Linked DNA regions of Homo sapiens. The protein of the gene in region 2 purifies or fractionates together with the protein of the main gene of each other region. This does not show direct contact. Each region holds a gene or a part of one and is shown on either strand. Other genes may lie near its edges.

Region 1 (3,746 bases), on a different chromosome or scaffold from region 2:
AGATGGGATCTGATGGCCCTCCTGCCTGGGATGCTGTCCGTGATCCTTTTACCTGGGTTTTTCTCTAAGATGCTGGAAGATGGAATCGGGTTCTTCAGGATGGTGGTGGGGTAAAGGAGGGTGCTGGGGTGTCTGGGTCGGGCCAGGACCACAGCTGGCTCAGGCAAGTCCTGTGTGTGCACGCAGGGATGTGAGGCAAGGGAGCAGAGGTGACTCCCCACACTGACCCCTCCCTCTGTGTCTTCACAGTGGATTTTGGGGTGAGTGCTCAGCTGGACCGCACCGTGGGCAGACGGAACACTTTCATTGGGACTCCCTACTGGATGGCTCCAGAGGTCATCGCCTGTGATGAGAACCCTGATGCCACCTATGATTACAGGGTATGGAGTGGAAAGTTGGGAGCATGGGGGCTGCCAAGGGCGGGAAGCAATATGGGGACCACGGGGCCTGAGCAGGCTGGGGAACAGAGGAAGGTCAGATGATGTTAGCAGTGAGGGGCTGGGGAACATCTTACGGCAAGGCAAGTGTGGGTGGGAAGATGGGATGGGTTGGAAGGCACTGCTGCAGGAATGGGTGTGGCCCAGGAAGGCTCCTGAGAGGCCAGGATGGTGGGTGAAGAGAGGTTGCAGGGCAGAGTTGTCAGGAATATTCACTTGTTCCTTCTTTCCCGTCTATAGAGTGATATTTGGTCTCTAGGAATCACAGCCATCGAGATGGCAGAGGGAGCCCCCCGTAAGTTCTGAGTCTGCCGGGAGTGGGAGGGGAGGGAAAGGAAGGGCCCAGAGAGTGGCTGTAGGGAGGAGGTGGGTCCTGGGACCCTGCCGAGGAAGGGTCCTGTAGCTCCCAGTGCAGTGAAAGGGACTGAGGGTGTCTCCTCTGTGTCCAGCTCTGTGTGACATGCACCCCATGCGAGCCCTCTTCCTCATTCCTCGGAACCCTCCGCCCAGGCTCAAGTCCAAGAAGTGGTAGGTCTCTGAGAGTGTGGGCTCTGGGAAGGAAGGTCCCTGGACAAGGCCATCCCCACCTTCATGCCCTCTGTGCTCAGGCTTGGATCTCACCAGAGAAGAGATTCTGGGGGGCAGAGGGCGGTGACTGGTGTTGGGATATGAAGACAGGAGGGACGTCAAGGTGGCTTGTGGATGAATGATCCACCCTCTTCCTCCTGCACCCATCCCTTCTGAGGGGACCCTCCCAGTGTGAGCCACCACTGTTTCCAGGTCTAAGAAGTTCATTGACTTCATTGACACATGTCTCATCAAGACTTACCTGAGCCGCCCACCCACGGAGCAGCTACTGAAGTTTCCCTTCATCCGGGACCAGCCCACGGAGCGGCAGGTCCGCATCCAGCTTAAGGACCACATTGACCGATCCCGGAAGAAGCGGGGTGAGAAAGGTCAGTGGGCAGGCTGGAGGGGGCAGGTACTAGGGGACACTCCAGCCTGGCTCCTCTCTGCCAGCCCTGCTCGCTCCTGGCACCCCTTCCTGCTCCCCTCCTTGGCCCCAGCTCTCCCTGTCCAAGGAGATCGTTCTCAAACTTGCAACCCCCAAGGGGTTTTCCCTCCTTTCCCTCCCAGTCTGAATCAGCCTTCCAAAGGAGGACCGGCCTTTCGCATCCTTACAAAAACTCCATGCTAAGCACATGTGTGTGCGAGCACAAGCACAGGCTCTGCCACACCTCAGCTGCCCTGGGACCCAGTCCCGGTCCTGTCCAGGCCCACACCTGAGACCCGCTGTCCTCCCATTGCCCCCAGGAAGTGGGTGGGGCCCCTCATGCTTGCCCAGCCAGAGAGACCTGGTTATCCCCACCCAAGGTTTCCCTAGCCCACGGCGGGTCTGGGGCGCTGGGTGAGATAACTGCAGTGGCCTCCCCCTGCAGAGGAGACAGAATATGAGTACAGCGGCAGCGAGGAGGAAGATGACAGCCATGGAGAGGAAGGAGAGCCAAGGTAGGCCTGGCAGGTGGAGTGGGGGTTGGGGCGGTCATCGCTGAGTGGGGGGACTACAGTGGTGCTTGGCTTTGGGGACTCTCAGCCTGGGGGTGGTGGGCACAGAGAGGTAGAGACTCCTGGAAACCAAATTTCTGAGTGCTAAGAAGTGGAACCAATGACTGAGCAAGAGCTGGGGAGAGAGCAATTTGTGGTGAATGTGGGGCGCAGCAGTAATAGGAAAGGAGGACAGGACTGAAGACTGGGCAGAAGGGGACGGTAAGTCTCCTGGCCACCTGGGAGTGGCCAGAGGCAGAGGCTTTGATCCAGTTAAAGCACCCACTCAGGCGGGCCCACGGGGTTGAGAGTGGGAACCAACAGGGTTCTGACCCCAGTGCTTCTTTGTGCCACCCCTGCCCAGCTCCATCATGAACGTGCCTGGAGAGTCGACTCTACGCCGGGAGTTTCTCCGGCTCCAGCAGGAAAATAAGAGCAACTCAGAGGCTTTAAAACAGCAGCAGCAGCTGCAGCAGCAGCAGCAGCGAGACCCCGAGGCACACATCAAACACCTGCTGCACCAGCGGCAGCGGCGCATAGAGGAGCAGAAGGAGGAGCGGCGCCGCGTGGAGGAGGTGGGCTGTCTCCGAAGGGCCCAGGCCTGGCGCGGCCTCCTCCTGACCTGCCCCGGGTCCATTAGGGCCTTGGAGAACAGGTTTTAAAATGCCTTAAATGAATGGCATTTCTGTTGAAACAATTATATGATTTCAAATTTCATGATGAGCTGGACTTAACACAAAATGTAATCCCATCACTTTGGGAGGCTGAGGTGGGTAGATCACCTGAGGTCAGGAGTTTGAGACCAGCCTGGCCAACATGGTGAAACCCCATCTCTACTAATAATACAAAAATTAGCCAGGTGTGGTGGCGCATGCCTGTAATCCCAGCTACTCCGGAGGCTGAGGCAGGAGAATTGCTTGAACCCGGGAGGCGGAGGTTGCAGTGAGCAGAGATCACACCACTGCACTCCAGCCTGGGTGACAGAGCAAGACTCCGTCTCTAATAATAATAAGCAATAACCCGCAGCACCCACACTGTCCACCTGCTACCTCCAAAGTAGGCCCTCTCATTGTTGAACAAAAAATAATTTGCAAGAAAACCTGCTACAGAAGAGCCTTGTGCAGTTTTGAAAATATAGGCCAGGTGAGGTGGCTCACGCCTGTAATCCCAGCACTTTGGGAGTCGGAGGATGGGGGCGGATCGTGAGATCAGGAGTTCGAGACCAGCCTGTCTAATATGGTGAAACCCCATCTCTACTAAAAATACACAAATTAGCCAGGCGTGGTGGTGCACGCGCCTATAGTTCCAGCTACTTAGGAGGCTGAGGCAGGAGAATCGCTTGAACCTGGGAGGTGGAAGTTGTAGTGAGCTGAGATCACGCCACTGGCCTGGGGAACAGAGCAAGACTCCGTCTCCAAAAAATAAAAAAATAAAATAAATATAGCGTTCAGATAGTATAGTAACAAAGTCCTATCTTTTTTTTTTTTTTTTTTTTGAGATGGAGTTTTGCTCTTGTTGCCCAGGGTGACGAGTGCAGTGGCGCACTCTAGGCTCACCGCAAAACCTCCGTCTCCCAGGTTCAAGTGATTCTCCTGCCTCAGCCTCCTGAGGAGCTGGGATTACAGGAATGCGCCACCACGCCCGGCTAATTTTGTATTTTTTTCAGTAGAGACAGGGTTTCTGCATGTTGGTCAGGCTGGTCTCGAACTCCCGACCTCAGGTGATCCACCTGCCTCGGCCTCCCAAAGTGCTGGGATTACAGGT
Region 2 (3,746 bases):
TTCTTCCCCACCTTCCCATTCCCAACCATGCCAAGGGTTTCAGGGATGGAGAATGGAATCCTTCCTCCTGCCTCACAAGAACCACTCACCCAGACCTGCAGCCTCTTCCCATACAGGACTCCAGGGCACAAGGCTAACAGCTCCAGCAGCAGCTACTATGAACAGGTCCACACCAACTGCCACTGTCCAATCTTAGTGGTACCCTTTCTTGTGCTACTTCCTGGGTCCACACCCAGCCTAGGTGGGACCAGCCTACTCCCTGCCCAGCTGAGGACAGGACGAGGCATGGCTAGGGAGCTGTCCGTCACACCTCATGGGGTGGGCAGCATCTAAAGCCAGGTGGCACCTCTCACCTGGTTACTCACCACCCCACTCACAGAGCCTGACACAGCCTCACTGCCTCCCCACACTCACAGAGAAGCAGGTTCTGGCTCCTGTCACTCTGGGCTAGGGAAGGACACAGTGGGGGTGGGACACTGAACAGGTCAGCCTCTATTCTCTTTCTCTGAGAACCAGAGCATGCCACGCTGCACACTGCTGGTGGAGGCAGCCTAGGGGACAAAAACCTTTGGTTCTCAGCCCACTCCAGGACCAGGATGGGGCCTTTCCTCTAGGCTCCTAACACCCACACACTGGCAGGTCCTGGTCCCCATGGTACCCTAGTGCCCAACACAGAGCCTGGTACAGAGCAGGTGCTCAGATATTTGTTAAATGAAAACAAAAACATATGAGATCAGTGCCTTTCTCCTACTATCTGAATCTGTTTCTCCCTCCATAATATGGAGTGTGGACCAGGAGGCCTCAGGTCCTTCCGGACCAGTCTGTGATAGCCACGAGCACCTGAAGCCTGGGGGTCCATGGTTCCCTGAACCTGTTACAATCTCTGTCAGGCAGAGAATGCACTGACCAGCTCCAAGAGTAAATGGGGACCCAAGTGTCCCTGAGCCATCCCAGGTGCCAAGTGTGACCTAGCTCTAAATGGGGACACAGGTGTCTTCTGGACTGACCCAGGACTGGGATGGGCAGGGTCAGAAGGGCCACCTTGACTTGTTCATCATCCTCTGTGCCACCCAAATGACCACAGCCAGGCCAAGGGTCTAGGTTTGCTCAGTCTGACCTCTCAGCATATGTTAGCACAAGTGGTTTTCCCACCCATCTTTGTTGTTGTTAAGCATCTGTTGAGGGCTAAGTGCTGGGGTAAATGCCTCACCTATATCACTTAACTCTTCTCAGTCTACTATGAAGCAGGTATTTTATCATTACTCTGCAGACAAGGAAATAGAGGCTCAGAAACATTATGGGATATGCCTAAGATCACTCAGCAGGACAGTGATGGGACAGAATCAGAACTCGGGACTGCTAGCCTCAAGGCTGTGCTCTCAGGCCACAGTCCCCCAGACAAGCACCCTAGTCAGACTATGACCAACCAACCCTGGAGACCCAGGGCCCACCCCATGGGGTCCACCACATCTCTGGGAAAGCTGCAGGAGGCAGTGGCCAGGCCAGAATATCCCATGCCAGGCTTCTTCCATCTCACTCTTCCCTAGACCAGCCTCCAGCACTGACCCCAGGGTACCCTGCTGCCTTAGCCCTTTCCCATCCAGGAATTAGCACCTCCAACCCAAGAGGCAACCTGTTGATTCCAGAACAGGCAGACACGCCAATGAGAAGACAGCCAGCTGCAAGGACTCTTCTTGCAGAAGGCTCTGACTGGGCCAGGTGTGGAAGGGGGGGCAGGGCCTTACACAACGGAGCCCTTGAAGGGGTGAGGGTCACACATCTGCTCTAGGAGCTCCCCATAGCCCACTGTCTGTCCCATCCCACTCAGGCTCCAGTGCTCCCAACTTCAGTTAGTGCCATCTCCTGGCCATGTGACTGCAAAACCTCAACCAACCCATGTCGCCTCTCACCTGGACCCAGCCCAATCTCTTCTACGGCCTCCTGCCTCATCTCCTTCCCTCCTCCACCTGCCCTTCAGCTAACTTCCTAAAACAAAGGTGGCAAATTGTGCCACATCCTTCTTCTCAACCTGCTGTACTTCCCCACCACCTGGCTGGGCAAACCCTTCCACCTTTCTCCACCCAAGACATGTCTACTAACCACAATTCTCTGGTCATCCCATGTCTTCAGGCTCTTGCTGTCACAGTTTTCTTAGCCAAGTACCCCTTCCCAACAAAGCAAAATTCTACTTACATGAGAAGGCCCAGCTGAAATCTACCCCTTCTCTGAGCCTCCCCAGCAGACTCATGGCAGCCTCCCTGAACCTACAGCTCAAAGTTCTGTGGACATCAAGCACAGTGTCTTGTTGGAGAATCACTTATGTGGGGCTGACATGTCAGCCACACAGAGCTTCCTGAGGGCAGAGCCAGGTCTGATTCATCTCCAGAGTGTAGGTGTAGAGTAGAACCTGGCACAGAGAGGGAACCAGTACATCCTGTTTCAACTAGTGCCCCAGTAAGCCGGTCAGCACACATTGGGTAGACTGCAGGACTTGTGCACTTGAGCTCTCCAGGCAAGGAAATCAGAGCTGGGGATTCCAAATGCTTGGTTTGGCATGGCTTAGTAGTAGAGGCTGAAGAACCCTTGACAGAGCTGCCAGCCCATCCAGCTGTGGGCAGCACCACCCCATAGCATAGCAGTAGGTTACATTAGCAAGCTCTGACTCACCATAGGTTGTAAGAACAGCCAGACGCTCACAGGGTGCTAGTGATGCTGGATTAGTTTTTGACTTCAGCATTCTGAACATTCTAAGTAACTCATCTGGCTCCACTAGCCCCCTTGGCCATCTCCCAGCACCAGCTTGAGGTCTAAGGAAATGCCATATCACCAGGTTGAGGGGCATCAGAATGGCTGAAGAGGTAAGATTCCAAGCCCCATCCCCAGGGACTGCCCTCTCAGCCCTCAAGGGCCTACAACTATGGCAGAAGAGCTGAGGGATGGAAAGCACAGAAACAGCAAGATGTAACCCCAAAGAGTGGGCAGAATCTGAATGGCCTGGCCTTAGAGCACTGGCCCCAAATGGAGATGGAAGGAGGGATGACAAGAAGAGGAGGCAGGGGACCAAAGTCCTGGCAGAAGCCAGGGATTCATGGTGGTATAGTCCACTGCATTTGGAAATCCACAAGTAGCCATGGGCAAGGGGAACCAGACCTGGGCAAATAGAAAGCCCACAAATGGATGCCGGGAGCAGAAGTCCAGGCTAAATCTGGAAGGTGCTTCAAGCTCATAGAGGAGGGGTCTGCAGGGCCAGCTTGAAGATTCTCCCACCCTTTCCTCAGCAACCAAAACTACCCTCCCCAAAGAAGCCCTGGCCCACCAGGCCCATCCATGGGGCAGAACCCCATGGAGACTCCTTACCATGTGGGGGTTGTCATAGTAGACAGCGATGGAGCGGAGCTTGGGAGAGATGCTGCAGCTCTCAGTGAAAAGCCGCCCAGTCTCACCATAGAGCCCCATGTGGAACTTGTAGGCCACAGTGACGTTGCGGATGGGGGGTGACCCAGCACTCACTTCCACCCCAGCCAGTAGCCCTGAGTACCCGGCAAAGGCCAGCAGCGTCAGCAGCAGTAAGAGAGTCAGGCCCCCAATCAGGCCCAGTAGTAGCAGGTCCGACATGGCTCTGGATCCCCAACACTGCACCTCAAGGCAGCTGCAAAGGAGAAAGAAGGGAGAGGAGGCTGGTAGCCTACTCTGACAATGTGCCCACTTGCCCGCCAACCAGTTCTGGCCCAACCTCCTCAGACCTG

Evidence for each region. The genes of interacting proteins can lie anywhere in the genome.
Region 1: the proteins of TEX264 (region 2) and MINK1 purify together in Homo sapiens (affinity purification with mass spectrometry; 3 studies listed by BioGRID and IntAct, with this or other methods). This does not show direct contact.

The regions. Positions count from the first base shown.
Region 1 is NC_000017.11:4,885,234-4,888,979, forward strand, and holds part of MINK1 (misshapen-like kinase 1), read left to right. Parts: intron 1-249; coding exon 250-380; intron 381-677; coding exon 678-732; intron 733-886; coding exon 887-965; intron 966-1,217; coding exon 1,218-1,393; intron 1,394-1,876; coding exon 1,877-1,946; intron 1,947-2,346; coding exon 2,347-2,557; intron 2,558-3,746. UniProt on the Homo sapiens protein: Serine/threonine kinase which acts as a negative regulator of Ras-related Rap2-mediated signal transduction to control neuronal structure and AMPA receptor trafficking.
Region 2 is NC_000003.12:51,674,174-51,677,919, reverse strand, and holds part of TEX264 (testis-expressed protein 264), read right to left. Parts: intron 3,650-3,746; coding exon of another isoform or gene 3,616-3,649; coding exon 3,358-3,615; intron 1-3,357. UniProt on the Homo sapiens protein: Major reticulophagy (also called ER-phagy) receptor that acts independently of other candidate reticulophagy receptors to remodel subdomains of the endoplasmic reticulum into autophagosomes upon nutrient stress, which then fuse with lysosomes for endoplasmic reticulum turnover.